Homo sapiens: one gene and its partners. The gene in region 1 interacts genetically with each later gene. Each region holds a gene or a part of one and is shown in the gene's direction. Other genes may lie near its edges.

Region 1 (4,496 bases):
TGTTACTACATCCTGAAGCATTAGCTCTGCTTTTACATGCTTGTTCCACATCAAATTAAATTAATATAAGTTAAAATGCTTTGGGAAGCATGATGTGCTGTACAAATGTAAGGAATCTTTTTGCTGCAGACCGTCACACAGTTATTTTCTGAGAAGGAGATTAATGTTTATTACAAAGCTCTCTTGCCTCCTCCCAACACCATGGGAAAGTGGAGCAGTGGTTGGAGTTATTATTTTTTTCTCACTACAGCAATTACTCCTAACCTCAGCAGTTTTATATTCAAACAAAGATGTTGATGTTGAAGCAAAGTTTTCTCAATCTGCCATACCAACATATAAAGATTATTTTACTTAAAGCTATTTTAAATTCAAGATATGGGGAACATCTACTCTCCAGATGGAGGAGAAAGGGCTGAATCAATACAGGGGGAATTAGTTGTATTTTATAATTTTTCAACAATTAGAGTAAAAAAAAAATTATCTAAATTCTACTTTTTCACATAGCCTCTGTGCTGATTAGGTTAAAATCTCAGTTCAACTCACCTGGCATTGATGTTGGCCACCACACCTCCTGAAATTCAAATTAGTTGATTTTCAGTTGAAATGCTTTATTTTAAAGCTGAATCTTGTATAATTTTATTTTGATACATGCAAAGATGCAAAGGGAAATCAAAATGGCAACCCAAGATGCAGGGCCATGGTAGTTAATCATAAGCATTTTCTTCTGGGAGCATTATGAATAAATAATGTTGGAGAGGTCTTGGAACCATTGGAAGGGATGAGGAGCAAGACCATTTGCTTAAAACCTCTTGGTGATTCTTCCTGCTCTGTGACTCTGAATATCAAATCAAATTTAATTAATTTTATGCAGTTTCACAGGGATGTGAGATTCGTAGCTGATAGACTTTCTAATGGACTTCAGATACAAATGAAATATGATTTGTCTTTAAGCCTTTTTCAATAACTGTCTTTAAATCCTTTTCAATAATTATAGTAAAGAGAGATAGGATAAAGAGCTTAATCCTGTTGCTCCAAATGAAGGAGCAGGGTCCACTGTTGCCATTAAGCAAAAACATGCTTAACCAATCCTACATAAATGACCCTTTATTTTATCTTTTTTTATTTTTGGAGATGAGGACTTGCTCTGTCACTCAGGCTGGAGTGCAGTGGTGTGATCACAGCTCACTGCAGCTTTGAACTCCTGGTCTCAAGTCATCTTCCTGCCCCAGCCTCCTGAGTAGCTGGGACTAGAGGCACGTACGAGCACACTTAGCTAATTTTAAAATTTTTTGTAGAGACAGAGGTCTCGCTTAGATGCCTATGCTGGTCTTGAACTCCTGGCTTCAAGCAGTCCTACTGCCTCAGCCTCCCAAAGTGTTAGGATTACGGGCATAAGCCACATTGTCTGACCCTTTAATCCAGAGTTCTTTTGCACATTTCTGCTGAAAAATCTCTGCCTTACCTGTACTGTCTTTTCATCTACTTCTGTGTTGATGACTTAAGTAAGGCTAATAAATTTGGATTTACATTATGATTTTTAAAATTTTTCATTCACTAAGTATTTTGATGCCTAATTCCATAATCAAAAGAGATGAGTTCCCTCAGGAAGAGTATGATGTGTCAGACATTTTATCCCTGTATTTGCCAAGCTGCTTCTTAAGAATCATCTTGAGGTTGTTATTTAAAATATAGATTCCCAGGCCTCGGCACAGACCCACTGGACTTGAAACCCCAGTGGAGAGGCCTAGGAAGCTGTTTATTTAATAAACAAGTTAATAATAATCAGTTGTTTAATAAACTATTGATTCTTAACCATAAAATATGGGAAACTGATTTATCTTACTGTGTTCTTGGAAAAGGCCTAGACATTTCATTCCATAGACTTCTGTTAGAGTTTTGAAAAACTAGTTACTTATTGGCTACTATTTTGGTTCAGCAATGGTTCTTTCAGTACCCTGAAATAAGTATAGGCATTTTAAAGGAAGTGCTTTTTTGATAGCATATGTTCTCATTATATGGTAACTCTTTCAAATGCCTGTCATTGGTGTAAAGCTAATACCTGGTGTTGCATGACCACAGATTTAGAAAGTTCACTTCCCTTTCAAACTTATAGTGATGACTAATGATACTGTGAATAGGCCTTAACAAGTGGACAGGGACTAATAAAATGTCTCTGCTTAGTGATTCATGGCATCTAAAGTGAATCACTTTAGGGAAAGTGATCAACTGACCTTGTACATCAATCTTATTGGCTGAGAGTGATGAAGGTGGGAGCGGAGGGCTTCTAATGTTACAATTTCAAGATTTGTATTTACCTAAATACTACTAATAGGAAATATTTGCTGTGTGTATATATATTTACTTACTTATTTATTTATTTTGAGACGGAGTCTCACTCTGCACCCAGGCTAGAGTGTAGTGGTGCGATCTCAGCTCACTGCAACCTCTGCCTCCAGGGTTGAAGCAATTCTTGTGCCTCAGCCTCCCGAGTAGCTGGGACTACAGGCATGCATCACCACACCCAGCTAATTTTTGTATTTTTAGTAGAGATGAGGTTTCACTATGTTGGCCAGGCTGGTCTCGAACTCCTGACCTCAGGTGATCCACCTGCCTCGGCCTCCCAAGATTTTGGGATTACAGGCGTGAGCCACTGTGCCTGCCCTGAAAATATTGGCAATATTTTAAATTCATTACACCTATTGGGTATTATCTATAGAAAAACACAGGTTGTCTTCATTTTTGAGATATCTTAATGTATTCTTTCATTCAAAAAGTATTTGAGTACTTTCTGTGTGCATACTATCCACATTAAATAGGTGATGTTATATCTTTTGTGTCATTTTAAAACATTTAACACTTGTAGTTCTTTGACAGTAGTATTTCTTTGGAAGAATGCATACATTGTTCTTCTGAAGTATAATAATACTGTGTATACCATTAATATTATATGTACTTGAAAAACTTTGAAACTTATTTCAGAATTTGAGCAGATTTACCAGAGACCTCTGTATTGAAAAAATGATATTAAGTAGCAGATGATGTATTTCAAAATTATTTCTGTTTCTATGGATCATGAACTTTTGGGGCAATACAAAAAGGGTATAAGTTTGGTTGAGGAGGTGACTTTTACAGATGAAACACAGATGCTTATAAAGACAGCATATGATTTGGGACCAAAAAGAGTAATACAGACAAATGGTATTGTTGGAGTAGAGAAGAAAAGGTCAATATGGGTTAGAATAGTCGTGGAGACTTTCTAGAAAAAATTGGCATGTGAAGATAGGCTTTTGGGAGTCTGGAGGAATGCTCTTCCAGGAGAAGAGCAGATTTTTAAAGTGGGGTGGCCATACATGCAGAGGCACATAGGTTGGAATAAGCAGTAATAGTGTAGTACAATGAGGAGAACAGTGTGAAGGAAGTAGAAGTTTGACCTCGAGTAGATAAAATGGGAAGGGTAGATTGGGCCTATATTCCAGAGAACTGAACATGGCAGGCTGTGTATTTGGTTCAAACTATATCAAAGAGGTTTGGGTAAGAGATTTATGTTATTAAGATAGTGTTTTAAAAGTATTAACAATAAGCGGTAGTTTTGAAATTGTGCTCTGTGGGGTGTTTAGCAGTGGGACCCTTGATATCTTGGTCACCACTATATCCTTGGAGCCCAGGACAGAGCCTGGTACCCAGGAGGAACTAAAAAATGTTTGTTGAGTGAATGAATGGCAGAGTTTTGGGTCTTCCTTGACCCACGTTTCAATAGGAGCAGATCAGCATTACAGTGTTATATATATCAGGCTTCTACATATTGTTTCATTTTACTTGAAATGATTCCATATACAAAAGCAGTTTGAAACCCCTAAATATGGACTTAGTGGAGGAGAGATTGGAGGAGAGGAACCAGGAAACAGTTTGGCAACTATGTTCTAAGTCCTGATTTCATTTACACCTCAGGGTGGCTGTGTTGGGTATTCCCATTACGGTGTATTAAAGAATCTTAGGATGTTTCAGAAAAATTAATGTTTTTGTTTTGACATAAAGAAATGATGGCATCATGGCTTTAAGATATGCAGATGATCTTTTATGGCTTTAAGATGAAATCATGACTGACAGTTAGCAGGCATTGAGCTTCTGCTTTTGTGCAGATCTCTGTAAGTTTGTGTTTTGGGGGAGATAGAAGGGAAATGGGAGCCGACGTAGACCGTGATGGGGTTGATCATTGTGATCTAGTGATCCATTGAGTATTTGGAAATTGGTGCTCAAGTTGGATAGAGAAATGATTTTGGATAGAAGCAGCTATCACATTTGTAAAATGCTTTTTAGAAGTTTTCTGGTCTCACTGTTCTTATTTGTAGGTTTCCTCTAGACAGGTTGATCCAGGGGACGCGCCGTGATGGGGTTTCCTTATAAAGTGATTTGTGTAATGCTGCTTTCTCTGGAAATTTGTAAACTCATTTTTTCAGTGCCCACTAAATGAAGTTAATAAAAGGGCAGTAGGTCTT
Region 2 (4,496 bases), on another chromosome or scaffold:
CAGTCCCATCTGGGGGTGATAGGAGACAGTGACAAATCATCAGGCTTTAGATTCTCATAAGGAGCCCACAACCTAGATCCCTTCCATGCGCAGTTCACTTCTTTGTGCTCCTATGAGAATGTAATGCTGCTGTTGCTGATCTGACAGGAGGCGGAGCTCAGGTGGTAATGCAAGCAATGGGGGAGTGGCTGTAAATGGAGATGAAGCTTCACTTGCTCGCCTGCCTCATCTTTTGCTGTGTGATCTGGTTCCTAACAGGCCATGGACTGGTTACCATCCGTGGCCTGGGGTTTGTTGACCCCTGGCTTAGAGATCTGTGGGAGATCATGTCAGTATAGCGTGGTGTGTGTTAGGAATTCAACTATAGGTGCTGTAAAAGCCCAAAGAAGGAACATCTGATTTACTGAGGGAATGCTTCCCAAATGATACAATGACACGTAAGCTGAGTCTTTTTTTTTTTTTCTGAGACAGAGTCTCGCACTGTTGCCCGGACTGAAGTGCAGTGATGCCGTCTTGGCTCGCTGCAACCTCTGCCTCCCAGGTTCAAGCGATTCTCCTGCCTTAGCCTCCAGAGTAGCTGGGATTACAGGTGCACACCACCACTCCTGGCTATAAGCTGAGTCTTAAAGGAAAAGTCACCCAGGTGAAGGTAATAGGTGCAGTTCCAGGGAAACAGAGTAATCCAAATGGAGAAGTGAAACAGCTTGGTGTTGGCTGTAGCTGTAGTGGTGGAATTACAGGCACTTATTTGACAGATGGGGGAGAGCACTTTAGGCAAGAGGATTCTCTCCACCACCCATGGTGAACTTTTTATTTTATTTATTTTATTGTTTTAAGGAGACAGGGTTGGGGCTGGGCGCCGTGGTCATGCCTGTAATCCCAACACTTTGAGAGGCCAAGGCGGGCGGATCACCTGAGGTCAGGAGTTCGGGACCAGCCTGGCCAACGTGGTGAAACCCTGTCCCTACTAAAAATACAAAAAATTAGCTGGGCATGGTGGCAGGAGCCTGTAAACCCAGCTAATTGGGAGGCTGAAGCAGGGAATCGCTTGAACCCAGGAGGCGGAGGTTGCAGTAAGCCGAGATCGCGCCATTGCCCTCCAGCCTGGACAACAGCGAGACTCCATCTCAAAAAAAAAAAAAAAAAAAAAAAGAGGGTTGGGGGCGGGTGCGAAGTGGCTCACTCCTGTAATCCCAGCATTTTGGGAGGCTGAGGCAGGCAGATTACTTGAGCCCAGGAGTTCCAGACCAGCCTGGGCAACATGGAGAAACCTCGTCTCTACAAAAAACACAATTAACTGGGCATGGTGATGCTGTGATCACACCACTACACTCCAGCCTGGGCAACAGAATGAGACCCTGTCTCAAAAAAAAAAAAAAAAAAAAAAAAAATACAAAGTTTCACTCTGTTGCCCAGGCTGGAGTGCAGCGGGTTTGTCATAGCCTGTAGGTTTGAACTCCTGGTCTTAAAGTGATCCTCTCGCCTTAGCCTCCTGAGTAGGAATAGCTAGGGACACATGCCATTATGCCCAGCTTCCATGGTGAGGATATTGGTGACAGAGTCTTATGAGGAGTGGCTTGAGGAACTGGGGTTATTTAGTCTATATGTGAACTAAGTCAAGAGTAGGACAGCAATCTTTGGTATTTGAAAGGCTGTCATGTGGAAGAGATCCTTGGGACTTTAGAGCAGTGGAACACAAACATAGGTTGTCACTAAGAGACCTTTGTAGAGGTCTCAGCCTTTCCAGCCACATTCCTTATCCTTCCTGGGAATCTGAATCTTCAGGTCTAGGGAATCTGCATTTTTAACAAGTCTCAGCTTAACAAGGTAAGTTGGACACCTGATCTCTGCACTACACTTTGAGAAACACTGAGGAAGAAACAAAACCAGTGCTATGTGGAAGATACAGAGAGGAGAGGTTCTCCTTTAAGATGAAGGTTGTACCATCAGTGGAGGGGGATAACCTCTTAGCTAGAGGGGAGTTGTGCAAGGCCTAAGAAATTGGGATGGAGATTCAATAGAGTCTCTCTTAACCTGGAGACTGTCTGATCCTTTAAAATCTAACCACTGGGCAGCTATTCTCTGCTGTAAGTTTGTTCCTAATACGAGGTCTCATGGGCTTTGTTTCTCTTCCAGGAGCAGGAACTCAAAGCAGCCGCTGATGGCGTACTATCTGAAGTGAGGAAAAAACAAGCAGATACCAAAAGAATGGTGGACATTCTACGGGCTTTGGAGAAATTGAGGAAACTGAGGAAAGAGGCTGCAGCGAGGAAAGGTAACTGTGGCTTTGCATTTCTTTCCTTGTTCCCTTCCCCTTCTTTACTCTAGCTCCTCCCACCCCAAATATTATTGAGGGAAAAATACTTGAAACTTCATGATTTTCACCTTGTCGGGTAACTGGGCTTGTCAGCAAGTAGGTCAGAACTTCTGAAGCAGGAAGCCTCAGAAGATGTTTAGCCTGTGGTAGCCCAGATTGAAAAGAGAGGCAAGTGTGGGAACCCACTGCACTGTCTTCCCCTTGACTTATCATTCCTACCCTGGGCATTTCTGGCCACACTCTTCTGAGTGGGCTTGTCATGGCTAGTCACCTTTGCCTTGTGCCAGAGTGAAAGCTTTTCACCCTTACTTGTTGCTCCAGAAAGTGTTGAAAACTTGGCATGCTTCTTCAGATACATTTCAAACCTGAATTATTTCTATTTGAAGAGGTATGAATGGTTGGACAGGGCAGGGATTGCAGACTGTGTGGATTTCCCCACCTTCCCTTCATGTCACTGGTCTCTTCTTGCCTCTGGAGGAAGCACCAGACACTATAGCCAGGCAGTTCAAGCTTCTCCACCGAAGTTTGTTTCAACCATGCTGGCTTTCTAGAAGTTACCCAATTGTGCTTTCCATTTGCCTGTCTGGATCTTAGCTGTTGTCATTCTGTTCATCTGGAGGGCCCTCAGTCCCATCTTTGCCATTTTAAGATCTCACTATTCAAAACCAAATACACATGCAGCATCCTTCATCCTTCCCTGATCTGGGCTGAGGTAACCTCCTGTTGCTTCTCACTTGCACCTGCTTTGGACCACATGCTGATTTATTTAGTAGATTGTAGGCCTTTGGTATTCACCAGAGATATTTGAGAGTGTACAAATTAGCAAATGCCACTCTAACAAATGATTTCCCATGTGTTGTTTAAAATGTAAATGAAAACTGGGATTCTTTTAGACCCTTAAGAAAGTTGTGTTGGAATATGACCATTTTGTATTCACCCAGGCTCGTTTGCTAGCTAAGTGATTGGCTTTTGCATACTAGCCTTCAGAGCGGCTAATTCACATCCAGACCTCAGAAACAGATGCCTCCATTGTGGTACTCTCAGGGCATTTGTAAATCAGAGGGAAGTTAGCATCTGCTTTGTCTACCCATCTCTTTTTCACTAGAAGGCAAAACCTGAGAGCTATTTAATATTCCCACACCTCACATCCTCTATGAGGTGAGTGCTCAGTAAACTTCTGCCAAGTGAATTTACCAGCATTTCCCAATATTAATCTTCCTCACTTTGGTCCAAAAGGAGGAGGAAATTTTAGGAAAATCATTATCTATAGAAATAAACAGACTTTGTGGCATTAAGTGACTTGAATGTAAAATGATTTGGTAAGTAGCAGCTGGTTGCATGCATATTTAAAATGAGCAGCTAACTTCTCTCTTCAAGATGTGTGCACCTCCAACTAAGTGCTGAATGATGAGGCTGGATGTTTAAGCAGGACCACGTTGCAAATTGTCTTATGGGCTATGCTAGAGTTCTCACTTATACTTAAAGCTTTGGGGAACCGCTGAAAGTTTTTTTTTTTTTTTTTTTTTGAGACGGAGTCTCGCTCTGTCGCCCAGGCCGGACTGCGGACTGCAGTGGCGCAATCTCGGCTCACTGCAAGCTCCGCTTCCCGGGTTCACGCCATTCTCCTGCCTCAGCCTCCCGAGTAGCTGGGACTACAGGCGCCCACCACCGCGCCCGGCTAATTTTTTGTATTTTTAGTAGAGACGGGGTTTCACCTTGTTAGCCAGGATGGTCTCGATCTCCTGACCTCATGATCCACCTGCCTCGGCCTCCCAAAGTGCTGGGATTACAGGCGTGAGCCACCACGCCTGGCCCCGCTGAAAGTTTTTAAGTGAAATGATGGCAAAGATCAGTGCCAGTAGAGCAGAGAAAGTTTTGGAGCATCCAGGAGAGAGAGAGAAGGGCAGAGAGATGGGTAAGGCTATTGGGCACGGGTAGTATGGAAGCATAAGCTGAGTGACGTCAGTGTGTAGGAGAATTGAGAGGTAATGAGTAATTCAAGTGATAGTGAATAATTGAGTAATTCAGAATTATTAGTGAATAATTCTCAAGTCAAAGAATTGAGAGATAATGAATAAAGGTATATGTGTATATACCCATGTACATATAAATAAATAATTTAAGGAACTCAGAGTACAGGAACTAAAGGGAAAAACAATGAAATGTCTTCCAGATTCTA
Region 3 (5,092 bases), on another chromosome or scaffold:
GAAAGACTCACCAATGAAGAGAATCTACATCTGATAAAGAGGAGATCAAGACATATCTGGGAGGGTGTCAGGGGTTCCAGGAAGCGGGGGAGGAATCATGTTGGTCTGTCTGTGAGCATCTATTTTTCTTCTCACAGAGTAGTAGAAACTTGGGACTAGGAGCAATATAGGCAGAAACACACATCAGGCAAGGCATTCCTGACAGGCAGAGAGAAACTGCCTGCTCATCGGGATGCCACTCTCCTACTCTACTCTCTATTGTGGACAAAAGGTAGCCACAGGGTCCTCCCAATTCTGTGGCAATGAGTATGGAGAGGGCATAACTGGATAGCAGAATAAAAATCCAGTGCACATTGCTGCCTTACAGCCAATAACAGTTGCTCGCCAGTGGTATGAAGCTTCTGTGTGCCTAGGACTGAGCTACTGGGTATAGCGTGTGTGGGAAGGGGAGTCACCAAGGGGAGTCATCCCCAGAAGGGGAAGGTAAGATACTCTTCCAGGATCAGGCTCACCTTTCCCATCCTTGGAGGGGGTCTGGGGATGGAAGGTTTTTACCACTTTGGGCATGGTACACACTCTATCAGCAGAAAAGGGAATTCATCGGAGATTATTTGGGTAGACTGATGGCCTTAAAGGAAACTGGGTATTATCTTGTTCTGTCAGGGGAGGAGTTTACACCTTCACTAACAGTTCTGAGCAGATGCAACAGCAGGACAGACCAGAAGTGTGACCTAACTCAGGCTGCCTCAGAGAGATTGCTGTTGGACTGCCTCTATTGATGGGACTCTTACTGAGGGGGTCCAGGCATTCAGGGGGTTGAGCGTCCCAGAAAGTTCCCCACCGACGCTTTAAAAATGTATTCCCTGCAGCCTTACGTTCTTGCAGTTCCAATATAGCATTGGTGTTTAAAGCCAAACTACATTATAATTGATTCGCCATCATCCAGCTTTATATTTAACACTTTAATCTGGTAACAAAGGAAAGGCTCGTTAAAGGACGGCATTTATAAAAATTTTTCAAGCACCTCTGCTTAACTCGAAGGGAAAATAAAAGGCACTGTTTATTTGGTAGGCCAAGGAGAACAACGCCACGAAGAGGTTCTCCACTGATCAATTCCTACCTTTGTCAATTATACCACATTAATTAGTAACTTTTTTTGGAGACATGGACCCTCTCAAACTCCCCAGTATGCTTTGAAACTTTGATCCAGAAATGTACAAACAAAACTCTAAGTGTTCTGGAATTAATTTCAGAAGCTTCATAGATCCTCGTAAGTACTCACCAAAAGAAAAATTCCCCATTTCTGGTACTCCAATCTCATGTCCTTAGAATTCTCCTAAGACTTGTTCCCTTGAACAACTTTCCCTAATTGCAAATCAAACCTAGATCCGGCTGGGACGCCAAGCTTGAGCTGTGGTAACGCTCAGAAGGCCTCTTTTCATCAGTAAAATAGATGCCTTAACGGAAGTGGCGGGCAATCTACGCATGGAAAGGCGCTTGGCTTCCCTCTTTTTTGGGTTTCTCTAGGTTGTCTGGATGGGAAAAAAATACACGCTTCGTCCTGCGGAGTTCGGTACGAGGGCAATTGCACATGCGCAAAGGCGAACCAGTAGCGTCCGGGCGCGTCCGTGGAGCGGGACGGGGCGGGGCGGGGCGGTGCCGAGTGGGGCGAGAGAAGGCCCGCTCCTCCCATTCGTCGCGTCCTTAACTCTTTGCTATCCTTCCGCTGAGCTTCCTCTTCTTTCCCTCTGACCTCGGAAAGGGGGCGGGGCTTTCGGGGGCGGAAGTTGCGGTGCATTGTGGGTTCTCCTGGAGCTGTGGAGTTGATCCTGAATGAAAGTGGCGCGCCGCCCCTGACGTTACCCGGATCGGAGAGGTTGGAATTCAGATTACGGCTGCGATTCGGGTGTCTCGGACCCCGGTGTGCACCGGACCACGGGGAGGCGGCTCCAAAGGCGCGGTGAACGTTGGTGAGGGAGGGCAGCTCTGCGCAGCCCCAAGACATGGCTCACAACAAGATCCCGCCGCGGTGGCTGAACTGTCCCCGGCGCGGCCAGCCGGTGGCAGGTAACCTGGACTGGGGGGCGTTCGAATCCCCACACTCCAACGTGCCCGGGGGTGGGCCGACTGAGGAGCTCAGCTTTTGGTGGTTCTGTGCCCATTAGTGGTATTTCAGGAGCGGGATATGCTCCGTCGGATTACGCTTCGTGGATGAATGGGAACATGAACGGGAGGGGATGGTCGGCGGATGGGGGGCACTTGTTACTATTCCTGCAAGGCTAACTGTGCGAATGTGAAGGTAGACAGGAGGTTGGTGGCAGGAGGTGAGGATCCAGGAATACAGTGGGCGTACTTTGAGTCTTAGTAGTTTGCGAACCTGTTAGGGTTCAACCTTCCCCTCGAAAGAAGGGATGAATATCAGTATTGAGATGGAGGAGGGTTAAGGAGGGAAGGGGCGGTTCCCAGCGGTGAAATGGGGTCACATTGAGACTGGGAATCTGGAGGGTGTTTTTGTTAGTTTTTTATTTTTATTTTCTTGTGAGACAGGGTCTCTTGCTCGGGCTGGGGATCCTCCCACCTCAGCCTCCCAAGTAGCTGGGACTACATGCTCCTGCCACCGCACCCGGCTAATTTTTTTATTTATTAAAGTATATATATATTTATAATGTATATATTTGAGACATAGTCTCTCTCTGTCGTCCAGGCTGGAGTGCAGTGGCGTGATCTCGGCTCACTGCCTCAGCCTCCCAAGTAGCTGGGATTACAGGCGCGTGCCACCACACCCGGCTAATTTTTGTTTTTAGTAGAGACAGGGTTTCATCGTGTTGACCAGGCTGGTCTCCAACGCCTGGCCTCAAGTGATCCGCCCGCCTCGGCCTCCCAAAGTGCTGGGATTACAGCCGTGAGCCACTGTGCCTGGCCATAATTTTTTTGTTTATTTTTTGTGGAGACAGGGTTTCACTGTGTTGCCCAGGCTGGTCTTGAACTCGTGGACTCAAGCGATGCTCCCACTTCGGCCTCCCAAAGTGTTGGGATTATAGGCGAGAGCCACCCCGCTTGGCCGGGTTTTTGTTTTTTTTAATTATTTTTCTTGTAGTTTTTTTCATCTTTATTGAGCTTGAATACAATAAGCTTTAAAGCGTACAGTTTGATAAATTTTGACTGTATATACACAAATATATCTCTTTCCTAGGAAACAACCATGAAACCCCTCAAAGTTTCCTCTTGCCCCTTTTTAAATCCCTCCTTCGCCTGGCAGCCACTGATCTGCTTTCTGTAATTATAGATTGGTTTGCATTTTCTAGAAATTTTTAAATAAATGGAAACATATAGTGAGTACTCTTCTTGGGGTGGAAGGAAGTGTGTGTGGCTTTTTTCACTCAGCATAATTAATTTGATACTCATCCAGATTATGCATGTATCAATAGTTTATTCCTTTTTTATTGCAGAGTAGTAGTTTATTGTTCTGGGTATACCACAATTTGTTTACCTGTTCATCTATTGATGGTCATTTGGGTTATTTCCAGTTTTTAGCTATTACAAATAAACCTGCTGTGAACATTCATGTACAATTCTTTGTGTGGACATATACTTTCATTTCTCTTGTGTAAGTCTCTAGGAGAGGAATGGCTGCATCATATGGTAGGTGTATGTTTTAAGAATTTTAAGAAACTGCCAACCTCTTTTCCAAAGTGGTAACACTTGATAGTCCCACCATCAATGTATTATACAGAAGAAATTCAAAGGACTTAAAAACTAGCAAAAAATTTGGACACTTCACAAAATAAGTTATATGAATAGCCAAAAAGCTATGATGGCGTGGTGGTATGTGCCTGTAATCCCAGCTACTCGGGAGGCCGAGGCAGGGGAATCACTTGAACCCAGGAGACGGAGGTTGCAGTGAGCTGAGATTGCACCACTGCACTCCAGCATGGGTGACAGAGTGAGACTCCATCTCAAAAAAAAAAAAAAGTAATTTGTACTTATCGTGTAATTTATTAGTAAGGGTTCTCTAGAGGGACAGAACTAATAGGAAATATATGTACATATATATATATACACACACACACATACATACACACACACACATACAGACGTAAAGGGGAGTTTATTAACTGTTAACTCACACGATCACAAGGTCCCACAATAGGTTGTCAGCAAACTGAGGAGCAAGGAGAGTCAGTCTGAGTCCCAAAATGGAAGAACTTGGAATCCAGTGTTTGAGGGCAGGAAGCGTCCACCACAGGACAAAGATGTAGGCTGGGAGGCTAAGCCGGTCAAGTCTTTTCACATTTTTCTGCCTGCTTTATATTCTAGCCATGCTGGCAGCTGATTAGATGGTGCCCACCCAGATTAAGGGTGGGTTTGCTTTTCCCAGCCCACTGATTCAAATGTTAATCTCCTTTGCAACACCCTCTACACCCAGGATCAATATTTTGCATCCTTCAATCCAATCGAGTTGACACTCAGTATTAACCATCACAGTAATTTCTTTGATATTTTGCATATTGAGGAAAATGTTATGGCTGCTCAAACTTATATGTTGTAAATGTTAGGATTCACTTTACTAGTACTAGAAGTTCATAATTTTCCTGAATCAGAAAGAAAATGGTACTAACTACATATAATTTGTTTCTCTGTGAAGTCACTTTCTCTGATGAAACCAGACTTGCAATGAGAGAGAGCTCTTGGAGACAGGGCCAAGCTTTATTTTCTGAAGAACTGTTTTTTCCTCCTTCTGAGTTAATAGATTTCAGGTGAATACTTGGAAGAAAACAAACTTATAATTTCTTTTCCTTTTTCCTTTTTTTCTTTTCTTTTCTTTTCTTTTTTGTATTTTTAGTAGAGATGGGGTTTCACCATGTTGGCCAGGCTGGTCTCCAACTGCTGACCTCGGGTGATCCGCCTGCCTTGGCCTCCCAAAGTGTTGGCATTACAGGTGTGAGCTACCGCACCCAGCCCTCCCTAGTTTCTTAAAGATATATCATTCAACATAAAATTATTTCATATCTGCTATGTAAAGAGCTTACTAGGAACTGTGGGAATGTAAATATGAGACACAGCCAGGTGCATTGGCACATACTTGTGGTCC
Region 4 (5,263 bases), on another chromosome or scaffold:
AAAACCATTTTTAGAGGCATGGCAGGATGGGAGGTTGATTTATTCTTTATTTTCCCTCTTTGTCACGTATATGCTAGTCTCACTAAAATATTTTGTATGTAGTGATGAGCTCTGGGTTTGGAGATAAAGGACCTGGTTTCAGATTCTGTCTGCCTTGTATTAGCTGTGTAGCCTTGGACAAGTCATTTAATTTATTTTTATGTAAGTTTCTTCAACTGGAAAATGGGTAGGAATACCTGTCCTAACCCCCCACAGTGTTGTAGTGAGAACCAAATGAGATGATGCTTGTGAAAGAATTTACCAATCTGTAAAGCACTGTGTAATGGATTATAAACACTGCCTCCTCATGTGCTTACCCTGACACGTTTTATGCTTTCATCCTTCTAAGAAGCAGTTGTTTGTGCATGGGGATCACCTGGCATTCTTGCTGCAGCACTCCATCATAACCCTCAGCACAGAATGCAACATACAGTTTGCCAATCGACTTCAGTGGGATGTGAAAAGTGAAAAGTGCATTTAATTCTCACTAAGATGCCTTGGCTCAGATTCAACAAATGCCATTTACTTGAAGGCCTTTTATTTGCTTTTTCTGCCTGCCCCCCTGCCAAAATCTTCATCTATTTGTTCATTTATTCATTTACTCATTTAACATAATTGTTTTGAGTGCCTACCAGGGTCATGTTAGACACCCAAGAAGTAAAGTGAGTACTTCAAGATATTCACGTTGTACTGAGTGTAAGACACACAAAAACTTACAGTAGATAAAAGAACTATAATAGGATATATAGGATACACTGTGTACAGAGGTAGGAAAGATCATTTTTGCGAAGTGAGGGAGTGTGTGTCATGAAAGGCTTCAAAGGAGGTGCTAGTCTGTCTTCAAAACTAAGTAGCAGGAGAAGGTAGAGGCGATGCAGGTGAAAGAAACAGCTTTCACAGCAGGTGAAAGAAAAAAAGCGCTCTGGGAACCATTGTTAGCTCAGGCTGTGATTTCGTTCATTCTATTACAGTGGGTTAAATTACCTGTTGTTTGCCAAACCCTATACCAGTTTATGGGGTTACAGGGGTCAGTGTAGGCATCATGGGGGCGGACGGTGAAGTAGCAAAGGAAAACCAGCCACAGTATGAAGAGCCTCGAACAACCATTTTACTCCGTGCCAGTACACATGGGAAAGGGTTGAAAGGATATGTGAACCTGCCGCCACCAATTCCTTGATTATTCACTGGAACCCTTTCAGCCAGAGAAGATAGACACAGTACTGGGCTTTACTGAGGACTGGGTGGCGCTGTCTTTAGGGGCAGGTTAATAATATACACCTAAGTGACAAGAACACTCACACCCGAGGAAATTAGAGTAGTAAATAGACACGTGGAAAAATGTGCCATCTTATCAGTAATTAAAGAAGCAAAAATGTAAACAAAGCGGCACCTAGTAAGGTAGAAGACAAAGCAAAATATCTAAGGCTGTTAAATAATGGGGAAGCAGGCGCCTTAGAAAACAAGGGCAAATGTAAAAAACCTCTAAGGCAAGAGTTCGGTGGGGAATCTGCGGGATTCTGTGTGCTGAAGCGCAGGAGGCACGAGTCACCTTTGCAGTCTCCGGTACCAAACGGGCAAGGGGTCCCCGTAAGACTGCTGCACCCTGGCCGAAGGTAGCGGGTGAAGCGCCTCGGCGTCTCTAGGCAACCGATCAGCCCGCCCACTCCGGGGTGACTTCCTCGTAATTGGCTCTCGAATCCACCAATGGGCGCACAGGGGGAGCTTCCCGCCACCTCTGGCGCCCGCTTTCAAACAGCCGTACTTTGCAACTGCAGGTGGACTTCTCAACCAAGCTTGAGGAAGGCGGAGACTTCTGCCTCCTCGCTCTGCCCTGAGCTGGCACGGCTCCGCCCACCGGGCGAGCTTCTAGTCGGCGATTGAAGGATGCGAGTGCTCCTTAAGGGCCTCCGCCCCGTGAGTTCGGTTGTGACTAGGAAGGAGCTAGTGGACTAGAGCCAGGGTAAGGGGATCTGCTAGAAGTTGGTCTTCCGCCAGGACTAGAGTTTCCTCGCGGTAACAGCCTCCGTGGCCTCCGGTAAGTTCTGATTCACGGGTGAGCTTGGACCTGGGGTTAGAGGAGTTGCGGGGTCCTCGGGATGCTGGCTGAGGGTTCCTGGGGGGGCTGACCTGCCCCCTCCCCAAATCCCGCGGTGGTGGACTGCCCGCATGTTGCGGGCTCAGCTTTTACCTTAACGTGTCATTTAGACCTCTTCATTCCTCCAATATCCTACTTAGAAGTGACATATGGGAAGCCCGCCTCGTTTCCAGGCTGCTGGGGTCGCCCTGAGACCCTACTCTGCGGACCCCGCCTTGGTCACCCTGGCGTCACGCCTGGCTCACAGTAGGTGCTCTGTGCACGTGTGTTGACCGAGTACAAGTGACGCTGGCACCCGAAGCCAGTAGCCCCGGGCATCCTGGGCCCCGTGCGGCTTTGGTCATGTTTGTAGTGCCGTAGCTGACGCCAAACAGTTCCTCAAGGTCATTCGCTCAGCCTGTGGATGCTTATTGTGTATTAGCATTACTCGCTCCGCCCTCTGGGCAACTTGAATCAATTTGTCCAAAGTGCTGTTATTAGCACTGATCACAAGATGTTGTGATCATTTGTTTATATGTCTATTTTCTTTCCCTTCATCGTGTCCTGTTAAACTTTGTAATCTTGAACAGTGCTTGGTAAATTGTCGAATGAATGAATAAGGTGTCTCCACCAGGTGTTGCAAGTCTAAACCGGGCTATGTGCTCTGGCTATTTCCATTCTAGAAGGCGAGTTATGTCAGCAAGTAAGTAGAATTTCCCAACTCCAAGTGCAGTTCTTAGAAACCCCTTTTGTGGGGGTTTATAACCCTTCCTATATCGTAGTCATGAACTTGAGTCTGATTTAAGCCTATTATCACCTTATACCTTCATAGTGCGTGACAATGAACATGCACTCCCTAGACAGGTGAATGCACTCAACTAAAGAGAAGCTGAAGTTGAAGCCATAAGAAAAGCATAAGAAATACAGTCTGAAAGTGCAAAGGAGTGGCCAGCTCCATGGGGGAACAGGCTTGGGAGGGCATCTTGAAGGAGGGTGGCATTTTTGTTCCATAGGAGGTTGCATTATTAGAAGTGACATTTCTCATAGGCTGCACATTCACCTTTTCTCAGATATGCGGAATCCTCTTTATTCCCTAAACCTCTTCGGTAGCTGGCAGACTCCTATTCATCAGTAATAATGTCATAATAGTAATAAAACTACAATGTATTGATTGGTACATAGTGCTAATTACTTTACATGTAGTATCTTGTGAATCCTCAGAATCAATCTTTGAAGTAGGTATTATTTTTACCCCCATTTCTTTAACGTAGAAGCAGAAACAGTTTGCTCAAGATTGCACTGCTGATAAATAGAAGAGCCAGAATTGAGCCCAGGTTGTCTGAATGAGTGCCCTCATTCTTAGAACCACTTATAGCCATATTGTGTCCTTTAAGATTTATTTCTAATCTAAAAGCTCTTTTTTTTCTGTAAAACTTCTCTAAACTATCCTTTCTTCTTAGGAAAAGTAATTTGTGCTTTGTACTTTCATCTACTACGGAATTTATTACAATATGTTATTGTAACTGTTTATATCAGTGGCTCTATCTAAGAGAGGGTGAGCAGAGACAGTGAGCTCCTCATGGCTGGTACCATGTCTTAGGTGCATCTAGGATATGATCTGGAACACAGTGGGTATTCAATAAAATTTTATTGAAGTAATGAATTCGTATAAGGTAACATGCCTATATCATATTCAGTCAACAAATATTTGTTATGTACCCACCATGTGCAAGCAGGCAGATACATTTTAATTCTGCCTTCAGGGTGCTTATAGTTTATTAGATGAAGCAAAAACAATGCTACTTTTGCTTTGTAATCTTTTGTCCAAATACCCATTGCTTTTGTTGCAAGGAGGGCAGAGAAAACAACCGGGGACAACAAAAGGAATGCTGGGTCAGAGCATCCATCTGAGTGTAACAACAAGACATACTTTTTATAGTCTTGTTAAGGGTTCAGAAAAAGTTATCTAGGAAGAAAGTCTACCAGACTGCTATTGAAGAAGAAAACCAAAACATACTGTATACTTAATCTGCATCTTGATTTCTCAAGTGGTCAGCCTTGAGTCAATAGATATAGAAAATTTTCAGTATTTTTACTAGTGGCATAGTATTGACAAATTAATTCAAAATAATTTTACTAGTGTAAATGTTAATTTTCAATATATTAATATTGATAGTTTTCAAGATGGTTTAGCAGTTGATATTTTCACCAGCAACTCATGAGCCATACAAAATACAAAATAGTCACCACTGGGTGATAACAAGTTTTTTTTTTGTTTGTTTGTTTTTTCAATCTAGTGGTTGAAAATGGCATATTGTTTAAATGACACTTCTTTGAAACATCACGAGCTTAAGCATCTTTTCAAACTAATTGATTTACACTTTTTAAAATAAATTGTCATGTCAGTCGCCCAATTTTATATTGGATTGTCTTTTTCTCATTTCTTTGTAATAATTTTATATTGGGACTTTGTCAGGTGCTTTGCAAATTTTTTTTATTCTTATTTTTCTTGACTTTGTTATTGATGTATTTTTTCATATATAATATTTGACTCGTTAATGATGTCTTTTGCCTTAAACAAAATTTTATTTTTTGTGGTTAGGTTTCCATCACATTTTTCTTTATGGCTTTTGGATTTACTATCTTGCTATTTTTTTTTTTTAAAGAAGTCTCTTTTGTTGTTCTGAATATTATACTAAAGTCTCTGGTAGCAGTGATAATGAGTGGTGATTAATAAGTTAAGGTATTAGCTTTTATTTTAAGTCTCATTTAAAATATGTATTACCTTTTTACTATATATATTTTTAACCACATTAAGTTGATCAGGTTTCCCTTTATGTCTGAAATCATTTCTTAAAGTCTTTTATAGTTTATAGTTCTGATAAGGAAAACTTATACCTTCTTCAGTGGGGGAGATTTTGGTCTTTTCAGGTATTTTTAGATGTCTTCTTTAATGACATGTTTTGAATTTAAAATAACATTAAAGATATATACTTTGATATTTTACATTCTCTTTAAAAACAAAACCCTAAGTATTCTCTATCTGAGAAAAAGTAGCTGTCTATTTAAAATATTAGTAGCTACATTTTTAGCAATAGGCTCTTATAAATCTTAATGTTCTTTTTCAATAATCAACATCAGTTGATGGCA

What was found.
Region 2: changes in MRPL22 (region 1) and PDCD7 together harm fitness more than expected from each alone (negative genetic interaction), as found in Homo sapiens cells (one large-scale study listed by BioGRID).
Region 3: changes in MRPL22 (region 1) and RNGTT together harm fitness more than expected from each alone (negative genetic interaction), as found in Homo sapiens cells (one large-scale study listed by BioGRID).
Region 4: changes in MRPL22 (region 1) and CEP152 together harm fitness more than expected from each alone (negative genetic interaction), as found in Homo sapiens cells (one large-scale study listed by BioGRID).

The regions. Positions count from the first base shown.
Region 1 is NC_000005.10:154,960,577-154,965,072, forward strand, and holds part of MRPL22 (large ribosomal subunit protein uL22m), read left to right. Parts: intron 1-4,496.
Region 2 is NC_000015.10:65,126,811-65,131,306, reverse strand, and holds part of PDCD7 (programmed cell death protein 7), read left to right. Parts: intron 1-2,136; coding exon 2,137-2,275; intron 2,276-4,496. UniProt on the Homo sapiens protein: Promotes apoptosis when overexpressed.
Region 3 is NC_000006.12:88,960,321-88,965,412, reverse strand, and holds the start of RNGTT (mRNA-capping enzyme), read left to right. Parts: upstream 1-1,794; 5' UTR 1,795-2,003; coding exon 2,004-2,067; intron 2,068-5,092.
Region 4 is NC_000015.10:48,807,772-48,813,034, reverse strand, and holds the start of CEP152 (centrosomal protein of 152 kDa), read left to right. Parts: upstream 1-1,965; 5' UTR 1,966-2,074; exon of another isoform or gene 2,075-2,104; intron 2,105-2,227; exon of another isoform or gene 2,228-2,337; intron 2,338-2,440; exon of another isoform or gene 2,441-2,816; intron 2,817-5,263. UniProt on the Homo sapiens protein: Necessary for centrosome duplication; the function also seems to involve CEP63, CDK5RAP2 and WDR62 through a stepwise assembled complex at the centrosome that recruits CDK2 required for centriole duplication.